3 separate regions of the Homo sapiens genome follow, and all the other regions are linked to region 1. The links come from fine-mapping of genetic effects on gene expression. A gene starts in region 1. Each other region holds a variant in brackets. All regions are shown on one strand. Distances are between the middles of the regions.

Evidence for each region.
Region 2: its variant is fine-mapped to the expression of MCL1 in whole blood (GTEx, PIP 0.96).
Region 3: its variant is fine-mapped to the expression of MCL1 in whole blood (TOPMed, PIP above 0.99).

The regions. Positions count from the first base shown.
Region 1 is chr1:150,575,295-150,584,073 of GRCh38, forward strand. It overlaps MCL1 (MCL1 apoptosis regulator, BCL2 family member), which reads right to left and starts at 4,316. Exons shown (of 3, transcript NM_021960.5): 1 at 3,549-4,316; 2 at 2,950-3,197; 3 at 1-2,197. The coding sequence starts at 4,236. The coding sequence ends at 2,081. It overlaps LOC107985203 (a long non-coding RNA gene), which reads left to right and starts at 4,536. Exons shown (of 3, transcript NR_186818.1): 1 at 4,536-4,925. RefSeq lists enhancers at 2,574-3,773, 2,734-3,452, 3,453-4,170, 4,219-4,513 and silencers at 4,087-4,216, 4,287-4,626.
Region 2 is chr1:150,765,619-150,772,590 of GRCh38, forward strand. It overlaps CTSS (cathepsin S), which reads right to left and starts at 160. Exons shown (of 8, transcript NM_004079.5): 1 at 80-160. RefSeq lists enhancers at 31-175, 34-178, cis regulatory regions at 103, 106 and a silencer at 5,371-5,490. The variant G/A (reference allele first, on the strand shown) is at 2,264.
Region 3 is chr1:150,607,366-150,616,144 of GRCh38, forward strand. No RefSeq gene overlaps it. Among named protein-coding and RNA genes, the nearest start is that of ENSA, 18 kb to the right of the region's middle. RefSeq lists enhancers at 1,101-1,787, 4,128-4,422. The variant G/T (reference allele first, on the strand shown) is at 4,262.

The DNA of each region.
Region 1 (8,779 bases):
CATCTTATTCATACCTATTTTTAAATGGAGTCCACAGACTAAAGGTCATGTTCCGAGACTGAAGCTTTCAAATGACCCTAGTTCCAATATAGACACTTTCTTCAGTTTATCAGTAGCTTTTAAACTCTGAGGTTTAACACAGCTCACCTCTTTCTGTAAATTTAAGTGAGCATACTCCTATACAAAGGAAACTTTAGAGAAAGCCTCATAAAATGTTCTTTCCTCTGAAAATTCCTGAGGGGACTTTTGACACATTGCCCCCAAAGACAGGATAAAACAATAGTTGAAAAGATACCAGTCCAAGGAAAAGGGACTTCCTCCCACCTCTCAATGACTGTTAGTGTCACAGCACCCATGGTATTACCACCTGCTAACAGGATCAAGTTCGTGAAAGATGAAAGGTCTGTGGACTCTTGGTGGGGAGGGAGGGTCACTCAGGTTTCCAGCAGGGGTTTCACAGTGCCAAAATCTAAAAGGGCTAGAAAGAGTTCAGGGATGGCAGGGGAAAGCTGTAGGAATTGATATAAATATCTGTAGAGGGAGCAGAACAATCAGCAATTTCAAGGAAGGACAGGAAATAAAAGGTTAAGTCTGATAGAACAAACATCAAGACTGAAATCCAAAGATGCCAATGCAAAAACTTGCAACAAGGTTTGGGAATCATTAATAGAAACAAAACAGTAAGTATTTGCTTTATTGACATACTAGGCTTAGACCTGTGTGTGTAACAAGCAAGCCTAATAATAGCACCATGGTTAGACTAGCCTGCTTTTCCAAGCCATCATTTTATAATTTATTAAGCAAACAAGGGATCAAATGTCTCTCCATCCACCTGATGTGATCTTTTTATATGCACACAGCTAATGAGTTCCATTCAGCTGAAAATCTTTTAGTAAAAGCTTTAAAGATGAGCCCATGAATTCACTTTAAATTTCACCAGTTAAATTAGGTCAAATGGAAGGAACTCAAATGAGTATTGCCCAATCAGAGCCCATTATTTGTAAGTCATCAGTAACCTTAAAACTCCACTTAGACCTAATTATTGAAAACTTGCATATAATGAAGTGAAAGAATTTCCATTCATCAACCTCTCAATCCCAGGTTTTCAAAGAAAAACCTAAGGAATACTTACCAAAATCAGATAAGAAAATTTAAACCTGCATAGTTATCAGATTTGTTCCACTACAACCAGTCTGCATACAGTTACACATCAATTCGTTCTGTATACACTCTAGAACTGAACAGAACAAAGTTTAGCATAGAAAAGCTGTAAGAAACAGGTTCCTAATTACGGAAGTTGCAAAGTTCAAAAGGGTATGAAAAAAACTAATGTAAATTCGATACTTCCTTCGTTTCAAAGAAATAGACTTTCTGTAAAAATATATACAATTTTTACAAATACATTTACAAGCTGTCTTAAGAATTGAGGATATCCATATTCATAACTAATTACTGAGCCTTCCGTCAAGTATTATTGGTGATAAACTAGGCTAATAAAGTAAGAATCATGGAAACCAAGCCAAAGTATAACAGGTATAAAAGTCCTGAACACTTGGACTTTCTAAGAAGTATACTGGGAAAGCTAATTAGAGAGAGGAAAAGCTTCCCTTGTACAGTACTGAGGCTTACAGTCATAGTTCTATTACTTGTAACTTTTACACAGGTCACTGGCATTCTTAGTGCTTCTCTTAACACTACAGTAAATTAATGAATTCGGCGGGTAATCAATTCTATGACTTGCCTGGCTACTGGCCACTTTCCTGTTCTCAACAAGGAAATTAAGTCTTTCCACCCTACCATCTTCACTAAATCTAAAAGTCCTCCTCCATAGCTTCCCAAACAAAGTTTGTTTGTTGCTGAAACTGAACTTTGCTTCTTTCAGACAGTGACTCTTCAATCAATGGGGAGCACTCTTCCCATGTATTTATTCTTGTTAGCCATAATCCTCTTGCCACTTGCTTTTCTGGCTAGGTTGCTAGGGTGCAACTCTAGGAAGTTACAGCTTGGAGTCCAACTGCATAAACTGGTTTTGGTGGTGGTGGTGGTTGGTTAAAAGTCAACTATTGCACTTACAGTAAGGCTATCTTATTAGATATGCCAAACCAGCTCCTACTCCAGCAACACCTGCAAAAGCCAGCAGCACATTCCTGATGCCACCTTCTAGGTCCTCTACATGGAAGAACTCCACAAACCCATCCTAGAAAACAAAAAAGAAAAGCACATTTTCAAGTATGGGTTTCTGCTCTCTTACAACACTACTATCCAGAGAGAAGGTAAATTAAAATATCTAAGGTTTCCCCCTAAAGCAATAGTAAACCAATTATTATTCACCCCGGGGCAAAAAAAGAAAATAAGTTCTTCAGTTTCTTAAGCGGGGACCCATGATAATTAAACTTCATTTTACAGTACTATCTTGGTCTTATTAGGATTTATCCTAACAAAAGGACTTCCAGAGTTCCCATGAGGTAAAAGACGAAAACCCTTATTCTCAAATCTCCACCACCTAATATTTCAGTAACGCCTCAATTGCGCAGATCAGTTTTTCTCAACGTAGTTAAGTACATCCTGCATCAGATCTGGGTTTGTTTAAAACGCAGGCTCCACCCCATATCTTCTCCATTAAAACAGGCACCGCCTTAGGAATTATTTCAGCTATCCTCCCCTGGTGACTTATTTTTTCATGGTTTGAATCCACTGAAGAGTATTCAACTGAATTGGAACAAAAAATTGCCTAGAGAAAACCAAGATTTTTGATACAATTCAAGACCGCCATACCACTATCTCTAAGGATCCACTACTTAAATCAACATCAAATAAACAATGGTCCTTTAGTTAGAGCCTGCAAACAGCCGTGCGTCATAAAAACCTTTAGATATCCCCACCTCTCTAAAAAAAATCCTTCATTCTACTTCCACTCCAAGGCCCCTTTCATCCTTAAGGCAAACTTACCCAGCCTCTTTGTTTAACTAGCCAGTCCCGTTTTGTCCTTACGAGAACGTCTGTGATACTTTCTGCTAATGGTTCGATGCAGCTTTCTTGGTTTATGGTCTTCAAGTGTTTAGCCACAAAGGCACCAAAAGAAATGAGAGTCACAATCCTGCCCCAGTTTGTTACGCCGTCGCTGAAAACATGGATCATCACTCGAGACAACGATTTCACATCGTCTTCGTTTTTGATGTCCAGTTTCCGAAGCATGCCTGAGAAAGAAAAGCATGCAGGTCCTCACGGCCTCCTTTGTCTAAACCGGCGCAAGATTCGCCTGCCCACCCGCGGCGGGAAAATCGCTACTGGGATTTACAGAACTCAGGTTGACCCCACTTGAAATTGACATCCCACCCTTTCCGGTCTTTGAACAAGAGCTGCCATTTCCAAAAGAATCAAGATGGGCGGAAACAATGACTCATGGCCAGAATATTCTGGCTTCAGGAATAGGATGAGACACGTTTCAACACTGACTCGTTTCGGTTTCCAACCCACCCTTGGCGGGTGAGTCCGGGGAGAGATGGAAAAAAGGGAGTGAGGCCTTGGCGATTAATGAACCCCCTTACCTTGGAAGGCCGTCTCGTGGTTGCGCTGCACGCCATCCCCAACCCGTCGTAAGGTCTCCAGCGCCTTCCTGCTGGTGGCCCCAGACCTGCCCATTGGCTTTGTGTCCTTGGCGCCGGTGGCCTGCTCCCGAAGGTACCGAGAGATAATCTCCAGCGACTGCCGGTACAACTCGTCCTCCTCCTCCTCTGCTGGCGGCGGCGTCGAGGGTAGTGACCCGTCCGTACTGGTGTTATTACCAGATTCCCCGACCAACTCCAGCAGCGGCAGGACAGCCGGCCGCTTCCCGAGAGGCTCCGGCTCGTACCCGTCCAGCTCCTCTTCGGGCGACATGATGGCGTCAGCGGCCGGGGCTTCCATCTCCTCAAGCGGCGCCGCGCGGCGGGTGGGCGCGAAGAAAAGCAGCCTCGCGGGGGTCGCGGTGACGTCGGGGACCTCGGCGCCAATGGGCGGCGGCCGCGCGACCCTCCGGGAGTCTGGCGTGAGGGTGGACGGGGGGCTTGCGCCGGCGCTTCCGCCAATCACCGCGCCGGCCTCCCCTCCCCCTATCTCTCGCCGGGCCGAGGCCTCCTTCTCCGTAGCCAAAAGTCGCCCTCCCGGGCGGGTGGCGCCGCCGCTGCCGGCCCCCAAGCCGGCCCCCCCACAGTAGAGGTTGAGTCCGATTACCGCGTTTCTTTTGAGGCCAAACATTGCCAGTCGCCGCCGCCGCCTGGCTGAGAAAACTGGGGAAGACCCCGACTCCTTACTGGAAGGAAGCGGAAGTGAGAAGTGGCGAGCAGCTCCTTTATCACGGTTTTAGGGCGGCCAGTCCTACGGGGTGGCGCCAGCGAACTCTTTTTTTTTAAAAAAAGTATTCCCATAAAAGGGGAAAGGGGCGGCAGCTTCCGGAGGGTTGCGCACGGCACCTACCAGCTGCCCGGCCGGGCCGGGGCGGGGCCGGGGCCGGGGCCGGGGCCGGGGCCTGAGCCGGGGCCTGAGCGGGGCCTTCCGGTCTTCGGAGGCTCTGAGTGCCGGTTACGTAACGGCGGCTCCGAGCGCCTGGGGTCCTCCCAGAGCTCCTGGGCTCGAGCTCTTTCCATGAGCACCTCGGGCCTTCTCGTGGCTACCTCTGTGCTTCCCTGAGACCTGATTTGTGAGCCCTTTTTGCTGGTTTTCGCCAGAGGTTTTTTACCAAATCAAAATTTCAACCATTGACTAACACAGGGGTTGAAGGAAGAGGACGGGGAAGTTCAGTGATGGATGGGAACAACAGTCTTAGATGATAGGGATAATTAAGAGGGCATAGTTGGGGACTTGTGGTTATTTTGCACAGCTCTCTACTCTCAGTCCAATGTTTGGAAATGAGGATGCTCCACGTGCTACCCTAAAGAACCATTTATGTAAGTGGACTAAGCTAAAACTGCCACAGCTAAACTATTCCTGCCTCCCTGCTTGCTTCTCCCATCTCTGTTCCATAGTCTTTGGTGCTATTTACATATAGGCCTTAATCCATTAGAATCTCGTCTGAGAGTCTTGACACCATTTTTTGTTTGTTTTGAGACAGTCTAGCTCTGTTGCCCAGGCTGGAGTGCAGTGGGGCGATCTCGGCTCACTACAAGCTCCACTTCCCACGTTCAGACGATTCGGTACCTCAGCCTCCCGAGTAGCTGGGATTACAGGCGTGCGCCACCACATCTGGCTAGTTTTTGTATTTTTGGTAGAGATGGGGTTTTCACGATGTTGGCCAGGCTGGTCTCGAACTCATGGCCTCAAGTGACCTGCCTGTCTCGGCCTCCCAAAGTGCTGAGATTACAGCTGTGAGCCACCTCGCCCAGCTGATTATTGTATTTTTAGTAGAGATGTGTTTCATGCGCGTCTGTGTGAAGACACCACCAAACAGGCTTTGTGTGAGCAACATGGCTGTTTATTTCACCTGGGTGCAGGCGGGCTGAGTCCGAAAAGAGAGTCAGCAAAGGGTGATGGATTATCATTAGTTCTTACAGGTTTTGGGATAGGTGGTGAAGTTGAGAGCAATGTTTTGTGGGCAGGGGTGGATCTCACAAAGTACATTCTCAAGGGTGGGGAGAATTACAAAGAACCTTCTTAAGGGTGGGGGAGATTACAAAGTACATTGATCAGTTCGGGTGGGGCAGAAACAAATCACAATGGTGGAATGTCATCAGTTAAGGCTATTTTTACTTCTTTTGTGGATCTTCAGTTACTTCAGGCCATCTGGATGTATACGTGCAAGTCACAGGGGATGCGATGGCTTGGCTTGGGCTCAGAGGCCTGACAATGTGGTTTCACCATGTTGGCCAGGCTGGTCTCAAACTCCTGGCCTCAGGTGATCCACCTGCCTCAGCCTCTTAAAGTGCTGGGATTACAGGTGTGAGTCACTGCACCCAGCTGACACCATTTATTTTTGTACTGATAATAAGGCACATTTGACTCTAGAGGTTTGTAAAGCCCTTGAGAACAAGGATCTTCTTATATGCCATGTATGTTAGTTAACGTTAATTAAAGCAGCCTTTTTGTTAAAAGATCTGTAAAAATAATAGCTAAAATTCAAAAGCAAGGTGCTGAGAGACATAGGAAAGGTGAGCAAGCTCACTTTTTATTTATTTTTTTGAGATGAGGTCTTGCCCTGTCACCCAGGCTGGAGTGCAGTGGCACCATCAGTGCTCATTGCTGCCTCAACCTCCTGGGCTGAAGTGATCCTCCCACCACAGCCTCGCGAGTAGCGAGGAACACAGGTGCATGCCCCTATACTTGGCTAATTTTTTTATTTCTTGTAGAGATGGGGTATCACTATTTTGCCCAGGCCGGTCTTGAACTCCTGGACTCAGGTGATCCTCCTACCTTGGCCTCCCAAAGTGTTGGGATTACAGACCGGGCTCTGTGCCTCATGCCAATAATCCCAGCACTTTGGGAGGCTGAGGTGGGTGGATCGCTTGAGCCCAGGAGTTTGAGACCAGCCTGGGAAACATGGCGAAACCCTGTCTCTACTAAAAACACAAAAATTAGATGGGTGTGGTGGTGCGCATCTGTAATACCAGCTACTCTGGAGGCTGAGACAGGAGAACTGCTTGAACCCAAGAGACGGAGGTTGCGGTGAGCCAAGATAGTGCCACTGCACTCCAGCCTGGGCAACAGAGCAAGACTTGGTCTCAAAAAAAATAATAATAATAATGAGGCCTGGCGCAGTGGCTCACACCTGCAATCCCAGCACTTTGGGAGGCCAAGGCGGGCGAATCATCTGAGGTCAGGAGTTTGAGACCAGCCCAACCAACATGGAGAAACTCCATCTCTACTAAAAATACAAAATTAGCCGGGCCGTGGTGGCACGTGCCTGTAATCCCAGCTACTTGGAAGGCTGAGGCGGGAGAATCGCTTGAACCTGGGAGGCGGAGGTTGCGGTGAGCTGAGAGTGCGCCATTGCACTCCAGCCTGGACAACAAGAGCGAAACGCCATCTCAAAAATAAATAAATAAATAAAGTGTTGGAATTATAGGCGTGAGTCTCCCTCTTGGCCAAAAGTTCCTAATCCCCAAAATGTCACAGTTTAGTAAGGTGATACGGCGTCCATACCACCCATTTATGTTTTGGGCAGGACCTAGAACCATAGGGGTTTATAGTATGAGTGGCAAGGATAGAGCATTTTGTGGTTATAGTGAATAAGAAATAGTTTCTCTATTTAAGGAATGTCTAATCTTGTACAGCAACTAACCATAATGTGAGATGGAATGTATGCTCTACACAAGGCATTAACAACTTCATTTTGGAGTTAAGAGGTTGGGAAATTCACTTTGGGCTGAGAGAGCTAGAGGAAAGTGTTATGGAGGAGGTAGCTTTGCTCTCATGCTTTATAAAGTAAAATTTTATCAGGTGGTAAAGTGGAAAGAGATTGAGGAAATAGGAGGAGCAATGATTTTTCCTTGTACAGAGGCTAAAAAAGGAAATGCAAGTTTCACTTTAAAATAAATTGCATTTATTCATTATTTGTTATTATTATTTTTTGAGACGGGTATCACCATGTTGCTCAGGCTGGAGTGCAGTGGTGCAGTCTCGGCTCACTGCAACCTTGACCTCCTGAGCTAAAGTGATACTCCTACCTCAGCTTCCCAAGTAGCTGGGACAACAGGCCAGCACCACCATGCCTGGCTAATTTTTGTGTTTTTTTGTAGAGATGGGGTTTCACCATGTTGTCCAGGCCAATCTCGAACTCCTGGCCTCAAGCCATCTGCCCTCCTTGGCCTCCCAAAGTGCTAGGATTATAGGCATGAGCCATTGCAACTGGCCCTGTTTGTTAGGAAACAAGTCTTGGTCGGGCACGGTGGCTCACGCCTGTAATCCCAGCACTTTGGGAGGCTGAGGCGGGCAGATCACGAGGTCAGGAGATCAAGACCATCCTGGCCAACACGGTGAAACCCCGTCTCTACTAAAAAAAAAATACGAAAAATTAGCTGGGCATGGTGGCGGGTGCCTATAGTCCCAGCTACTCAGGAGGCTGAGGCAGGAGAATGGCATGAATCCGGGAGGCAGAGCTTTCAGTGAGCCGAGATCGTGCCACTGCACTCCAGCCTGGGCAACAGAACGAGACTCTGTCTCAAAAAAAAAAAAAGAAAGAAAGTAACAAAGTCTTGCTATGTTATCCAGGATGGTCTACAACTCCTGTCCTCAAGGGATCCTCCCACCTGAGCCTCTTGAATAGCTGGGATTATAAGCATGAGCCACCACACCCAGTTTCAAATACATTTTATTTTATTTTATTTTACTTATTTTTTTTTTGAGACGGAGTCTTGCTCTGTTGCCCAGGCTGGAGTGGAGTGGCACAATCTCGGCTCACCACAACCTCCACCTCCTGGGTTCAACCGTTTCTCCTGCCTCAGCCTCCCAAGTAGCTGGGACTACAGGTGCGCACCACCATGCCCGGCTAATTTTTGTATTTTTAGTAGAGACAGGGTTTCACTATGTTAGCCAGGCCGGTCTCAAACTCCTGACCTTGTGATCCACCTGCCTCAGCCTCCCAAAGTGCTGGGATTACAAATGTGAGCCGCTGCGCCCGGCCTTTTTTTTTTTTTTTTTTTTTTTTTTTTGAGATGGAGCCTTGCTCTGCCGCCCAGGTTGGAGTGCAATGGCGCGGTCTTGGCTCACTGCAACTTCCACCACCCAGGTTCAAGCAATTCGGCCTCAGCCTCCTGAATAGCTGGGACTACAGGCGCGTGCCATTACACCCAGCTAATTTTTGTATTTT
Region 2 (6,972 bases), 190 kb after region 1:
AAAACCTAGCAGGCAGAACAAGTTACAAACACAGAGTGTTTGAAGACCAAATGGGAGAAAAAGAACAAAGAGTACATACGTGATAGAACCAGCAGTTGCTCCCACAGTAAGAGTCCTTGAATTAGTGGGCTCTCTTCTAAGATTTCAAAGCAACAAGGAGATTTCAGTTCAATTGACTTGAAAAGAAATTGGAACTTGTCACATGAGGTACTCAAAATGAGGAAGTGAACTTTCATTTCAGTTTCATTTAAAATCTAGCTAGTACAGTCACCTCTAGTCATTTCCCTATGGTCTTGGGGACAAAGTGGATACAGTAAGCCATCAAGAAGAGCCCTTGTCTGAGCCCAGTGGCTCATGCCTATAATCCCAGCACTTTGGGAGGCTGAGGCGGGAGGATCACTTGAGGCCAGGAGTTCAAGACCAGCCTAGGCAATATAGTGAGACCCTGTCTCTGCAAAAAAATTTTTTTTAATTAGCTGGGCATGGTGGTGCATGCTTGTAGTCCCAGCTGAGGGGGAGGGTGAGGTGGGAGAATTGCTTGAGTCTAGGAGGACAAGGCTGCAGTGAGCCATGATTATGCCACTGTGTTTCAGCCTGGATGACATATCAAGACCCTATCTCAAAAAAAAAATTAAATTGAATTTTAAAAACACCAACTTTTACATGGAAAACATTTAGTTATAAAGAGATTTAGATAAAGCTCCCCAAATCCCAGCTCCTTGTATGATTTCCTAGGAAAACCTGTCTTACTGCTTTTAACACAACTCATTCATGATCTGATATTGTCTGGTTCTCACTCAGCCATTCCTTCGTTCATCAAACTCAAAATGTCTTTATTAATATATACTATATGTATAGTTTAGTAATATGCGTGTGTGTGTGTGTGTGTGTGTGTATGTGTTAGTATATTCATGGAAAAAAGGATACACTCAAATATATCCAATTGAGAATGATTACCTGGGTGGGGTGGGAGCAAGACGAACTATCATCTTTTAAATTTGCATTTTCCTAATTACTAATGAGGTTGAGGATCTTTTCACACATTTATTGACCGTTTGAATTTTCTGTGAATTTCCTGTTCATCTTTTTTGCTCATTTTTCTATTGTATTGTTGCATTTTCTTAGTGATTTGTGGGAGGTGTGTGTGTGTGTGTGTGTTGTGTGTTTTCCGAGACGGAGTCGTGCTTTGTCTCCCATGCTGGAGTGCATTGGTGCGATCTTGGCTCACTGCAACATCCACCTCCCAGGTTCAAGCGATTCTCTGCCTCAGACTCCCAAGTAGCTGGGATTACAGGCACCTGCCAGCATGTCCAGCTAATTTTTGTATTTTTAGTAGAGACAGGGTTTCACCATCTTGGCCAGGCTGGTCTTGAACTCTTCACCTCGTGATCCACCCGCCTCAGCCTCCCAAAGTGCTGGGATTACAGGTGTGAGCCACCGTGCCCGGCCAAGGTGTATGTGTTTTAAAAATATATTCTGGCTTCTAATCTTTGACAGTTATATACCCTTAAAAACATCCTCCCTTAGTCTTCCACTTGTCTTTTATTTTATTTTTTCTTCCTTTGCATAAGCCTATGAAATTCCACTTGTCCTTTAGTCTTGTTTATAGTGAGTTTTTCTATATGAAATTTTTTTATGTTGAGGTAGAACATTTTATTCAGCTTTTCCGTATAATCAATCTATACTGTTTTTGTATAAGAAAATTTTCCTCATCCAAATGTAATAAAGATACACTCATCTTATTTTTATACTTTCAGAGAGTGTTTTATTTATCTTTTCTATGGCTACTGCTTTTAGGTGTTTAATTCACCTGGAATTTAGTTTTGTGTATGGTATGACGTAGGGAGCTTATTTTCTTTGTTTTCCAATTTTGATTCTACCTCTATTGTACACCAAATTCTCATACATAGATAGGTCAGTTTCTGAGCTCATGAAGCTGTTCTTTTTATCTTTTGCTACTTCAGTATCACACAGTTTTAATTAAAACAGCTTTGTAATATGTCTCCACGTATGGTAAGGCAAGTCATCTAGGCCACCCTATCTTTGTTCTTCTTTTTAAACATTGTCTTTGTATTTTGTACTTGTTAACTCTTCTTTATATGAATTTTTTGAATCAGTTTATCAAGTTCCCTGAAAAACTCTGTTGGAGTTTTTTGCTTTTTTCTTTTGGAGACAGGGTTTCATTCTGTCACCCAGGCTGGAGTGCAGTGATGCAATCATGGCTCACTGCAGCCTTGACCTCCTGGGCTCAAGTGATCCTCCC[G/A]CCTCAGCCTCTGGAGTGGCTGGGACTACAGGTGCACACCACCATGCCTGGCTGATTTTGTTTTTTGTTTTTTGTAGATAAGGGGTTTCACCATGTTGCCCAGGCTGGCCTCAAACTCCTGGGCTCAAGCAATCTGCCCACCTTGGCCTCCTGAAGTGCTGGGATTACAGGCATGAGCCCCCACATCTGGCTATTAGAGTTTTTATTTGAATATATGCATAAATTTAGGGAGAAGTAACATCATTATAATGTTGATTCATCTCAGCTGTAGTAGACATGTTTGTGTTTGTAGCCATACAGTTTTTTTTAAAAAGATACTGCTTATGGAAAATTTAAAACACATGTAAAAGTAAAAATAGTAGTAAAATGAGCTGCCGTGAAACCATTGTCTTGTTTCAACAATGATCAGTACATGGCCAATCTTATTTTATTTATATTCCCACTCTCACTACCTGAATTATATTAAATAAATTCTAGACATTCTGTCATTTCATACGTAAATGTCCCTGTGTGTGTCTTTAAAAGACAGAGACTATTAAACAAATATAATACCACAATACCATCATCACATCTAAAATAAATGAACAATAATTTTCTTTTTTTTTTTTTTCTGAGACAGAGTCTCACTCACTTGCCCAGGCTGGAGTGCAGTGGTGTGATCCCAGCTCACTGCAATCTCTGCCTGCCGAGTTCAAGCGATTCTCCTGCCTCAGCCTCCCAAGTGGCTGGGATTACAGGCATGTGCCATCACACCCAGCTAATTTTTGTATTTTTAGTAGAGATGGGGTTTCACCACATTGGCCAGGCTTGTCTCGAACTCCTGACCATAGGTAATCTGCCCACCTCAGCCTCCCTAAGTACTGGGTTTACAGGTGTGAGCCACTTTATTGTCATAAGAAATTAAGACAATAATTTCTTAATGTCATCAGACATCCTATCAATGTTCACATTTTCTGGACTGTCTTATACATTTTTTAATAGTTTGTTTGAATTGAGATTTAAATAAGCTCCATATATTGTGAAACCATTGAGTTATGTTTATATCATTATGAATTCATGGATTTAAACATATTTGATGTGTTTCAATCCATTCCAGTTTTATCCTTATTGATACTCATATTGTCTCATTTTTGGTCTGTAGGAATTTATTCAAACTGGCTCTTTGGTGCAGACAGAGTTTGTATATTTGGCATAATATTAGTACTCTTTAAAAGCTTCCTTTCTTTCTAATATGACAGGCTATTGCAGGTTTGTCTTGAACAATTCCTGCCCCAGACCTGGAATCAGCCATTTCTCCAAGGAGCTCTGGTTCCTTTTAGTGGAAACAATGTTTAAATACCATAATCTAGGAACTAGCAGTGTTTGGGATAGCAGATTGACCATTGTTGCTAAGCCTTTTCAGTAGCTAGAGCTAAGAAATATCTTTTTTAAAAAAATTAAATAAATCACAAGCTGACACTGATACTTCAAATTCAAATTCAAGACTATAGGGTTTACTCACCCCATCAATCTTATATCTGCACTTCTTTTCAAACATGCTTAAAAAATCTGGGTTCTCTAAAATATCAACTCAAGTACTTGTTTAATTTATCCTGTAAAATTGCAGAATAACAACAACAAGCCTACGCCAATAAGATTGTTAATGAAAACAAATTAGAGGTTTTAAAGTGGAGGGGGACAGGTTTTTCTCCATTAAGCCAAATGTCGCTAACGATGTAAGTCAATTACTGTGTTTTGAAGTCACCTGGAATAGTTCCCTGTATGGTTATGCTCCACCTCCATACACAGGTTTATTTGTTTCATTTCACTTCTTCCTTTTAGGGCTTGCTTTTTACACTTATGTAATTTCATTTTATAATTATGTAAAACATTTATGTGGATCCAAAGTGAAATCATCACAATGAGGTATATTCAAAGAACTCTAGCCTCTACTTTTGTCTGTTTTACACGATTTCCTTTTTTCCTTAATTGGTAATCATTTAAAAAATTTATGGTTTATCTTCCTATTTTTAGAAATATGCAAATATGCCTATATATTAATATTCTTTCATCTTAAGTGAACACTAACATATTACACATATTTTTCTCTATCTTGTTTTTTTCACTTAGCATTTTTTTTGTTTTAGTCAATCACTTAACATTTTATTAAGAAAAATTATTCAGGCGAAAGACATTAGCAGGTGTCCTTTCAGTGATGTGCTGGGTATTATTTAGTGGACCTTTACAGGAATTGTTTGATTCTTTTTAGAGTTAAGTTGTAAAAAACTGATAACTATGCAAATGATCCCTATACATGGCAATGCAAATAAATTTTGTATTGTAGATTTCACTGAATAGAGAAATAGAGAATGTAGATCTCTGTCAGTCGAATTCTTTTTTTTTTTTTTTTGAGACACGGCCTTACTTCATCGCCCACGCTGGAGTGCAGTGGTGCGATCTCAGCTCACTCTAACCTCCGCCTCCCGGATTTAAGCGATTCTCCTGCCTCAGCCTCCCCAGTAGCTGAGATTACAAATGCACACCACCACACCCAGCTAATTTTTGCATTTTTAGTAGATACAGGGTTTCACCGTGTTGGCCAGGCCGGTCTCGAACTCCTGACCTCAGGTGATCCACCCACCTCGGCTTCCCAGAGTGCTGGGATTACAGGCATGAGCCACCATGCCCGGCCTCAAATTCTTATTTGAACTGACTTTAATCTTACTGATCCCTTATTAATTAATGAGTTAAACTTCGATGCGTTCGTTGTATATTTGCTCTCAGCTTTTTAGAAACTATACTTTAGCAATTAAATTCTGATAACTCCACAGTAGTATATACAGTGTTCATTTATTTTTATGGCCACCTAGCATCTTTTGAACAATATTCCCATGTTTGGAGAATTTCCCACGTTATAAATTTTGCTTCTCCAAGTTGAAGCCAAAGCTCCATTTTCAAGGATCCAGTGCAGTTAAGGCACAGACATGAGACCTAGCCTTTGCCAGTCAGGCACACCTGTATAGAACATCATTTTGCAAGTGGGTAAGTGAGGAACCAGAAGTATGTAAAATCCTCCTTTTGGTGAGAATGGCAGTAGAGATGTCTCCCAGCAGCAGCAGCACCAGCAGGAGCAGGAGCAGCAGCAGATATTCTAATATCTGGTCCCCAGTGTCACCTGTTCAAACTGTAGTGTTTATGTCAAATATTGTGTCTGCTCAGTGGCATCATAGGTTGAGCAGTCCTCTCTGTGGTTTTGGTGATGTTTGTGGTTACACAATAAACAAACCTCACCGACTTTCTGGCCTTTCATAGGTTCTTTGAGTTTCCGGCACTTTTTTTTTTTTTTTTTGAGATGGAGTTTCACTCTTGTTGTCCAGGATGGAGTGCAATGGCATGATCTCGGCTCACTGCAACCTCCGCCTCCCGGGTTCAAGCGATTCTCCTGCCTCAGCCTCCCAAGTAGCTGGGATTACAGGCATGCGCCACCACGCCAGGCTAATTTTGTATTTTTAGTAGAGACAGGGTTTCGCCACGTTGGCCAGGCTGGTTTCAAACCCCTGACCTCAGATGATCCGCCCGCCTTGGCCTCCCAAAGTGCTGAGATTACAGGCGCAAGCCACTGCGCCTGGCTGCTTCCTGCACATTTTAAATAAACTGTAGTACCCGGATAGATGAACCTAGTATTGACATCCACAGCCGTGTTGAGTTTGGAAAAACAAGGGTGGAGTGTCAGAAGCTAGAATGGGGAAGGTGCTTTTCTCAGGCTGCGAATACAGGAAACTCAAGAAGAAAGCTATTGTGGAGCTCTCAATAATTTCAGGTTGCCTTCTCTATCCTTCTTTACACATCTGATCTCATACCTGATGTTTTTTGCTTTTAGCCTTGATACCTCTATATGTATTTCTATCCATAGAAATAGACAGTTCAATTTCCTTAATGAGAAATTAGCATAGGAACAAATTTCTTTCCATCAAGATTAAATGGTAGACAACTGCTTTTACAAGGGACCATGTATTTTTCCAGTCATTGTTTCTCTGTCTGACGAGGTCTATAAATCTACACTCAGTACAGAGCATAAACGTGGTGATTAGGCAACAGCACACCTTCTGTCTCCATTCCTGGGTATTGCCTACATGGAATTGTGTATGAAATTATGTCTCTACCTGTTTCCGGTAATCCTCTACCAAGTGGGAAAAAATTTTGGGGTTAATTGTGTTTTCTAGTGGTACTCTAAACCGGATTCAGGACGGCAGCGGCCATCTAAATGTCTTCCTTTGTTTATTTCTAAATCCATAAATTAATTCCAGATTTACCAAGAAACTAAATTGAGTTGATCCCAAAATGAAACAGGGCTCTCAGGGACATACTCACTTCTTCCCAGCCTGCCTTTGGACTCAGTAAGTAAGCAGAGACTGTGTTTATTTGTCTGATATACATGACCCCTGGTTAATATGTAGGTCGTAGAAGAAACCAAAATTTTACTTATGGAAGGCAGGGAGAATAGAGATGAATTACCTTTTGTGAGAAAAAGAACAAGTGACATATTAACTGCTATTGTATTTTCTGTTGTCAGGACGTGGGCTGAGTAAAAAGCTTAAAAGCTTTTGCATATGTCTTGGTTCTGCCATCTATTGGTTATAAGGCCTGGAACAAGTGATTTAACATGCCCATGGCTCACTTTCCCTATGCATAAGTACGGAAATGCTGACTTAGTGGCAACTAAACAGTGG
Region 3 (8,779 bases), 32 kb after region 1:
TGGGTTCAAGCAATTCTCCTACCTCAGCCTCCCGAGTAGCTGGGATTACAGGTGTGCGTCACCACCAGCTAATTTTTGTATTTTTAGTAGAGACAGGGTTTTACCATGTTGACCAGGCTGGTCTCAATCTCCTGACCTCAGGTGATCTACCCGCCTTGGCCTCCCAAAGTGCTGGGATTGTGGGCATGAGCCACCATGCCCAGCCTGAAATTTATTTATTTTTTTTAAAGTCAGTCTCTGTAGAGACTGTCAAAAATTGCCAATGCCAACTATATTGTAAGTTACCACAGTGGGATATGTGAAAATTCTTTTTTTTTTTTTTTGAGACATGGTCTCACTCCATCACCCAGGCTGGAGTGCAGTGGCAAGATCACAGTTCACTGCAACCTCGACTTCACGGGCTCAAGTGAGCCTTCCATGGCATGTGCCACCATGTCTGGCTAACTTTTTGTAAAGACGGGGTCTCTCTAAGTTGCCTAAGCTGGTCTCAAAACTCTTAGACTCAAGGGATCTGCCTGCCTTGGCCTCCCAAAGTGCTGGGATAACAGGTGTGAGCCACTGGGCCTGGCCCAACAGAAACCTTTTCTTTTTTTCTTTTGAGACAGAGTCTCAACTCTGGAGTCTCACTCTGTTGCCCAGGCTAGAGTGCAGTGGTGCAATCTTGGCTCACTGCAATCTCCACCTCCCAGGTTCAAGTGATTCTTCTGCCTCAGCCTCCTGAATAGCTGAGATTACAGGCGTGTGCCACCACACCCGGCTAATTTCTGTATTTTTAGTAGATGGGGTTTCGCCATGTTGGCTGTGCCGGTCTCGAACTCCTGACCTCAGGTGATCCACCCGCCTTGGCCTCCCAAAGTATTGGGATTACAGGCGTGAGCCACCGTGCCTGGCTTGAAACTTTTTTTGAGACAGAGTCTCGCTCTGTCGCCCAGGCTGGAGTGCAGTGGCGCGATCTCAGCTCACTGAAAGCTCCGCCTCCTGAGTTCACACCATTCTCCTGCCTCAGCCAAGTAGCTGGGACTAACAGGCGCCTGCCACCACACTCAGCTAATTTTTGTATTTTTGGTAGAGACGGGGGTTTCACCGTGTTAGCCAGGATGGTCTCGATCTCCTGACCTCATGATTGGCCTGTCTCGGCCTCCCAGAGTGCTGGGATTATAGGCGTGAGCCACTGTGCTTGGCCTGAAACGTTTTCAATTAGCAATAATTGTACATTGGACAAACCTCATTGGCTATGATACTGCCACTGCACAAAACTTAAAAAAAATTTTTTTTTTTGAGACGGAGTCTTGCTCTGTCGCCCAGGCTGCAGTGCAGTGGCAAGATCTCGGCTTACTACAAGCTCCGCCTCCGGGGTTCACGCCATTCTCCTGCCTCAGCCTCCAGAGTAGCTGAGACTACAGGCGCCCGACAGCACGCCCGGCTAATTTTTGTCATATTTTTTAGTAGAGACGGGGTTTCACCATGTTAGCCAGGATGGTCTTGATCTCCTGACCTCGTGATCCGCCCACCTCGGCCTCCCAAAGTGCAGGGATTACAGGCGTGAGCCACCGCGCCCAGCCAAAATTTAATTTTTAATTAAACAATTAATATATGAATATTTTCCTTGGAAAAAAGGAAAATATAGATGACACAAAAGTTCCTATGATTACCACTTCCAATCTCACTCCCCTAATTCTTTTCTGGAAGTGACCACAATTCTTTTTTTTTTTTTTTGAGACAGAGTCTTGCTCTGGTGCCAGGCTGGAGTGCAGTGGTGCGATCTCAGCTCACTGAAACCTCCGCCTCTTAGGTTCAAGCGATTCTTGTGCCTCAGCCTCCCGAGTAGCTGGGATTAAGGCACACGCCACCACACCCAGCTAATTTTTGTATTTTTAGTAGAGATGGGGTTTCACCATGTTGGCCAGGATGGTTTCGATCTCCTGACCTCGTGATCCACCGGCCTCAGCTTCCCAAAGTGTTGGGATTACAGGCGTGAGTCAACGTGCCTGGATGTAACAGTTCTCAGTTTAGCAGTTATCCTTCCAGTTCTTTTTCAATTGATCTGTGCTTTTTAACCCATAAAAATAGGATAGATAGTAGTATCTGTCTCACAGGAAAAGAACAGAAGTGAAATGCAAAGTGGGTAATGTTTTCCTTTTTCTCGTTCCTAAGAGCTGAGACCTACTGCAGAAACACAGCTGTACAGTACATTCAAGCTGAAGAAAAGAAAATCTTTTTTATTTCCAAGGGTGGAATTATCTGCCCTTGGTATTATCTAATACCTTGTATTTTAAAATATAAGTTTTTTGTTTTCCAAAAAACTCAACAGACATCACACACAGATTTTACAGTAGGTACAAGCTCTAGCCTGGCACACAACACAGCCAGCGTCTTGGACAGGGGTCTGCCAGAGGAGGGTAGCAAAAGCCAAAAGCCCAGAAAGTATTCTGCTTCCTTTGTCCTCTTCCATTTTAGCCAGGCAAGGAGCATTCTGTGTCTTATATCTTCTTTTCCCTGTGGCGTTCATTTCCAATTGCAGAAAGGAGGTCATATGACCAGATTCTTTCCTTAAACAGCTTTCCAGCTGAGTACAACAAAGACAAAACAAAGCAACCCTGCTCCTCCACAATTCTGCTCTTCCATCACTCTACATGGCAGGAGAAACTCCCACAATAGCTTTTTCCTACTGTCAGAGAGGAAGCATAAACCAAGATTTCCAAAGGCACCACTGGTTGGTTCCCAGGTGCCCTAGAGTAGGATTTTTATTTTATTTTACTTTATTATTTTTTTTTTGAGATGAGGTCTTATTATGTTGCCCAGGCTGGTCTTGAACTCCTGGTCTCAACAAATCCTCCTGCCTCAGCCTCTGAGTAGCTGGGATTATAGGCACTCGCCTCCACACCTGGCTCTAGGATTTTATTTTAGCATAAAACCAAATTCCACTTTGCTAGCCATGATACAAGTTTCTTTTTGAGACGGAGTCTCATTCTGTCGCCCAGGCTGGAGTGCAGTGGCATGATCTCGGCTCACTGCAACCTCTGCCTCCCGGGATCGAGCAATTCTCCTGCCTCAGCCTCCCGAATAGCTGGGATTACAGGCGCCCACCACCACGCTAGACTGATTTTTGTATATTTTAGTATAGACAGGGTTTCACCATGTTGGTCAGGCTGGTCTCGAACTCCTGACCTCAAGTAATTCACCTGCCTCAGCCTCCCAAAGTGCTGGGATTACAGGCGTGAGCCACCCTGCCCGGCCCCTCTTTTTGTATATCTAATTTAATTCTAACAAAAACATATAAGGTTTTTAGTTTAGTTTTTGAGACAGGCTGTTGCCCAGGCTGGAGTGCAGTGGTGTAGATATGGCTCACTGCAGCCTTGACCTCCTGGGCTCAAGGGATCCTCCTGCTTCAGCCTCTGGTACAGCTGGGACCACAGTGCGTGCCACCACACCTGGCTAATTTTTAAGGTTTTTTTGTAGAGATGGGGCCTTACTCTGTAGCCTAGGCTGGTCTCAAACTTCTGGGCTCAAGTGATCCTCCCATCTTGGCCTCCCAAAATGCTGGGATTGTGGGCATAAGGCACCACGCCCAGCCCAGCCCATATAAGGTTTTTTTTGTTTGTTTGTTTGGTTTTTTTGTTTTTTTTTTTTTAAAGACAGAGTTTTGCTCTGTTGCCCAAGCTGGGGTGCAGTGGCACGATCTCAGCTCACTACAACCTCTGCCTCCTGGGTTCAAGCGATTCTCCTGCCTCAGCGTCTCGAGTAGCTGAGATTACAGGTGTGCACCACCACGCCCAGCTAATTTTTGTATTTTTAGTAGAGACAGGTTTTCACCACATTGGCCAGGCTGGTCCTGAACTCCTGACCTCAAGTGATCCACCTGTCTTGGCCTCCCAAAGTGCTGGGATTACATGCTTGAGCCACTGCACCTGGCCCCATATAGAGTTTTTATTGTCATTATTCCCATATTACAGATGAAGGGACTAAGGCTCAAAGGGTAAATAAGTCTGTTCTTAAATAGTGACTTCCTGAGACACAGGAGATGTTTAAGAACAGTACTGGTAGGTGGGAAGTGGCATTTTGGAGCAGGAGTGAGAAGCATGAAAATGTAGCAAGAATAGAAAAGGGTGGGAAAACAGCAAATTAAGAGGAAGAAAAATGCAGGTCCTAGCAAGAATTGCTACTCACCACTGCCAGAGTCTGGGCCATGTTCTAGGTGTGTATTTAAACAAATCTCCATAGCAACCATCTGGTTTCTGTTTTTCTATGACAACACGGGCTT[G/T]CATTTCTAAATACAAGCACTGGTGAGGACAAGTGTGGGCTGGGGAAGGGAAGTGGGACCGCTGAGTCAAGGGGAAATTGCGCAAAAAAGGCAAAGGTTCTCTTGGTATGCCCTCATCTATCCCCTCCCAGCACACCCTCAAGGAAGGGGTCTTTCCTTGACTCACAGCAGTCATTGTTAAGAGCTGAGCCTTGTATGCACTTTGTCTTTTGTTTTGGAGACAGAGTCTGGCTCTGTCACCCAGGCTGGAGTGCGGTGGTGTAATCTTTGCTTACTTAAACCTCTTCCTCCGAAGTTCAAGCAATTCTCTTGCCTCAGCCTCCCGAGTAGCTGGGACTACAGGCGCCTGCCACCACTCAGTTAATTTTTAATTTTTTTGTAGAGACAAGGTCTCACTACATCGCCCAGCCTGGTCTCAAACTCCTGGGCTGAAGAATTCCTCGTGCCTCGGCCTCTCAAAATGCTGGCATTACAGGTGTGAGCCACTGTGGCCAGCCCATGATATCTTATTTTTACCAATTATGTAAATTCCTATCTAATTAGGGTATACCCTTGGTGCAAGAGGGGGAAGGGTAGATGCTTTTGCTTCTCATTTTCAACCCAGGTGGCACTTTTGGAGATACTGAGGGTAGAGAGAGGTTGGAGGATCTCATCTGATAAAGGTGTGGTAGCCCCAGAAAGAAAGGTGAGAAAAAGGCAGCTAGGCATGGAGATGCAGGAATAAGAATAGATACTGCCATGAGGACTAAGTGGGCCCAGACCTGAGTTAAAACAGCCCCCCATCCCCGCTTTTTTTTTTTTTTTTTTTGAAATGGAGCCTCTCTCTGTCACGCAGGCTGGAGTGCAGTGGCGCGATCTCGGCTCACTGCAAGCTCCACCTCCCGGGGTTCATGCCATTCTCCTGCCTCAGCCTCCCGAGTAGCTGGGACTACAGACGCATGCCACCATGCCCAGCTAATTTTTGTATTTTTAGTAGAGATGGGGTTTCACTGTGTTAACCAGGATGGTCTCGATCTCCTGACCTCGTGATCCTCCCGCCTCGGCCTCCCAAAGTGCTGGGATTACAACAAGAGCCCCTTTCTTAAGCATAGTGATTCTCAACCAGGCAACCAGGCAACTCCAGGGGGCATTTGGCAATGTCTGGGGACTTTTCTGATTATTCTGACTAAGCAACTAATGGGTAGAGGACAAAGATGCTGTTAAACATCCTGAAATGCACAGGACAGTCCCTGCAACAAAGAATTACTTGGCCCAAAATGTCAGCAGTTCCAAGATTGAAAAACCTGAGTAAAGAGATGCTGGTCCTACAGGAAACGTCTCCTTTGTCCATTGCAGGAGCACCAGTGTGACAGATAAAACCATTTGAGGGGGGCCGGGCATGGTGGCTCACGCCTGTAATCCCAACACTTTGGGAGGCCAAGGTGGGTGGATCACCTGAGATCAGGAGTTCGAGACCAGCCTGGCCAACATGATGAAACCCCATCTCTACTAAAAATACAAAAAATTAGCTGGGTGTGATGGCTACCTGGGAGGCTGCGGCAGGAGAATCGCTTGAATCTAGGAGGTGGAGGTTGCAGTGAGCCGAGATTGCGCCATTGCTCTCCAGCCTGGGAAACAAGAGCAACACTCTGTCTAAAACAAACAAACAAAAAACTATTTGAGGGGGATATACCAGAGATGCCTGCTTGTTCCCCTGGGCCCTGAGTCCCTCTCAGACTTTCAGACCAAGTATTTTTAGTTTACTTCTGACAAAAATAAATTCAAGCCAGAATCCAAATTTGCTGTGAAATCAGCTGGTTCTAGAGAATAGGGTATTTTCCTATACCCTTCTTGGTATAGGCAAAACTGCCCCACAGAGGCTGTGCAATCAGGCAAAGGCATGCTCCTCTTGGCCTTAGTTTCACCATTTGTAAAACGAGTACACTGAACTCAATGATCTCGAATGTCCCTTTAGTTCCAAAACTCTGTACTTTTGGACATTTAAGAAATATCCTGGGCTGTACAGTTTGGGTCTGTAAAAAAGGAAATGACTCAAATGCAATAGAGGAAGCCTAAGGATGACTCAGACTTCCCTAATCATAAACGACACTTCAGACATGGACCTTAACGTCAAACCAGGATTCATGATCACTAAATGACTTTCCTTTTGTACGTGTGAGCAGGTGGCGTTCACCAGGGGTGAGACTTTATTGACAGTAAGTTGCCTCTGCCAAAAAACGCCCTCATATGTCTGCTGATGTTTGAATTTCTCCTATGCAGAGTTTTGTCTCCAGTTAAAAATGTAAATACTGTTGTTTCTTGTTGGAGCTCAGAGGAAAAAAAGATAACTACTCTAGGATATGTATCAATTTGATGCTACTTTATTTTATTTATTGAGACAGGGTCTTGCTCTGTTGCCCAGGCTGGAGTGCAGCAGTGCAATCACAGCTCACTGCAGCCTCAACCTCCTGTGCCCAATCGATGCTCCCACCTCAGCCTGCCATTGCTGGAACTACAGGCACATGACAACACGCCTGGCTATTTTTTTTTAATTTTTCAGACAGGGTCTCCTTACATTGCCCAGGCTGGTCTCAAACTCCTGTACTCAAGTGATCCTCCCCCTTCAGCCTCCCAAAGTGATGGCATTACAGATGTGAGCCACCTCACCCCAGCAAGTTGATTTTTAACAAAAGATAACAGCAAAACCCCAGATAAATTAGCAAACTACCTTCACAGCTCGATGTGAGAACTCTCTTAGTTTTATTTATTTATACACAGAGTCTCATTCTGTTGCCCAGGCTGGAGTGCAGTGGTGCAAACACAGCTCACTGCAGCCTTCACCTTCTGGACTCAGGCTATCCTCCAGCCTCAGCCTCCCACGTAGCTGGGGCCACAGGTGCATGCCATCATGCATGGCTAATTTTTTAATTTTTTTGTAGAGATGGGGGTCTCATTTTGTTGCCCAGGGTGGTCTCGAACTCCTGGGCACAAGCCATCTTCCCCTCCCAAAGTGCTGGGATTACAGGCATGAGCCACCACCTGGCTCCAATCTAAAATTTTATATTCTTGCTACAATGTTTTGAACTTCCAGGTTAATCATTTCTGCTTCTAAATCATCTGCTCTTTGACCTTATAAAGAGTTCTCTTAAAAATAAATAAATAATAGAGAAAGAAACAAAGAATTCTCTTGACCAGAGGTTTTTTTTTTTTTTTTTTTTTTTTTTTTTTTTTTTGAGACAGGGTTTTGCTCGTTGCCCAGGCTGGAGTGCAATGGCGCAATCTTGCCTCACTGCAACCTCTGCCTCCCGGGTTCAAGAGATTCTCCTGCCTCAGCCTCCCTGGTAGCTGGGATTACAGGCGCACGCCACCACACCCAGCTAATTTTTTGTATTTTTAGTAGAGACGGAGTTTCACTATGTTGGCCAGGCTGGTCTCAAACTCCTGACCTGACCTCATGATCCACCCACCCCAGCCTCCCAAAGTGCTAGGATTACAGGTGTGGGCCACCGCGCCTGGCTTGACCAGTTTATCACAACTTCCTTAGCCTATTTTCTTATCTAGCTATAATCAGAGAGATTCTTTAATCTTTCACCAGCACTTTCATCCCCTTGCTTCCTTCTTAGTATACTTTATCTGTCTACAAATCCTGACTCAGGATCTAAACAATAATGTCGTCCCTGCTCTTGTACCCAGGGAGCTAGGTGCTTCTAGAGAAAATAGCACAAAGATATGGATTGGTACCATTACATGTTCATGGTACCAATCTGTTAGAACCTCAACATTGCTTGCTTCCTAACCACCCCTCCCCACCTTTTTTAAGAGATGGGGTTTGGTTATGTTGCCCAGGCTGGAGTGCAGTGGCTAGTCACAAGCACGATAATTGTGCACTGCAGTCTCGTCCTGGGCTCGAGATCTTCCTACCTCACCGTCCCAAGTAGCTGGGACTATAGGCGTGTGCCACCATGCCTGGCTTTTATTTTTTGTACAGATGAGTTCTTACCATGTTGTCCAGGCTGGTCTGGAACTCCTGGACTCAAGCAATCCTCCTGCCTCAGCCTCCCAAACTGTCGGGATTATAGGCGCCTGAGTCATTGGGCTCCGCCCCTCCTCTCTTCTATGTCCTTTTATGGCTATACTTTTTACACTCCCACCTCTCTAACATCCTACTTTACAAGTCTGACTAAAGCTGTCAGACAACGACTCCTATAAATTACTTAGCCCCAGTCAAAAACAATCAGCTGGGAGTTTACTGTTATATTTTCGCCTTGAGTCTCCAGCAGGATGAGGCATATATAGTCCTACTTGAGACCACTTTCTCACTCAGTTGGCTTCCCAAGTAGACTAACCCCACCACCTAGTAGAGTGGCTGGCACACGGTAAGTGCTCAGCAAACGTCTGCAGAAGTAGACCATGTAACTAAACCACATCCACCTGTGCTCATTTCACCTCCTTTCTCTTCAGAACCCTGCTTTTTGGTTATTATCATTCTCTACTGAGCTCCAGCTTTTACTTATTCCTTTCACTCTTTCAATAAATATG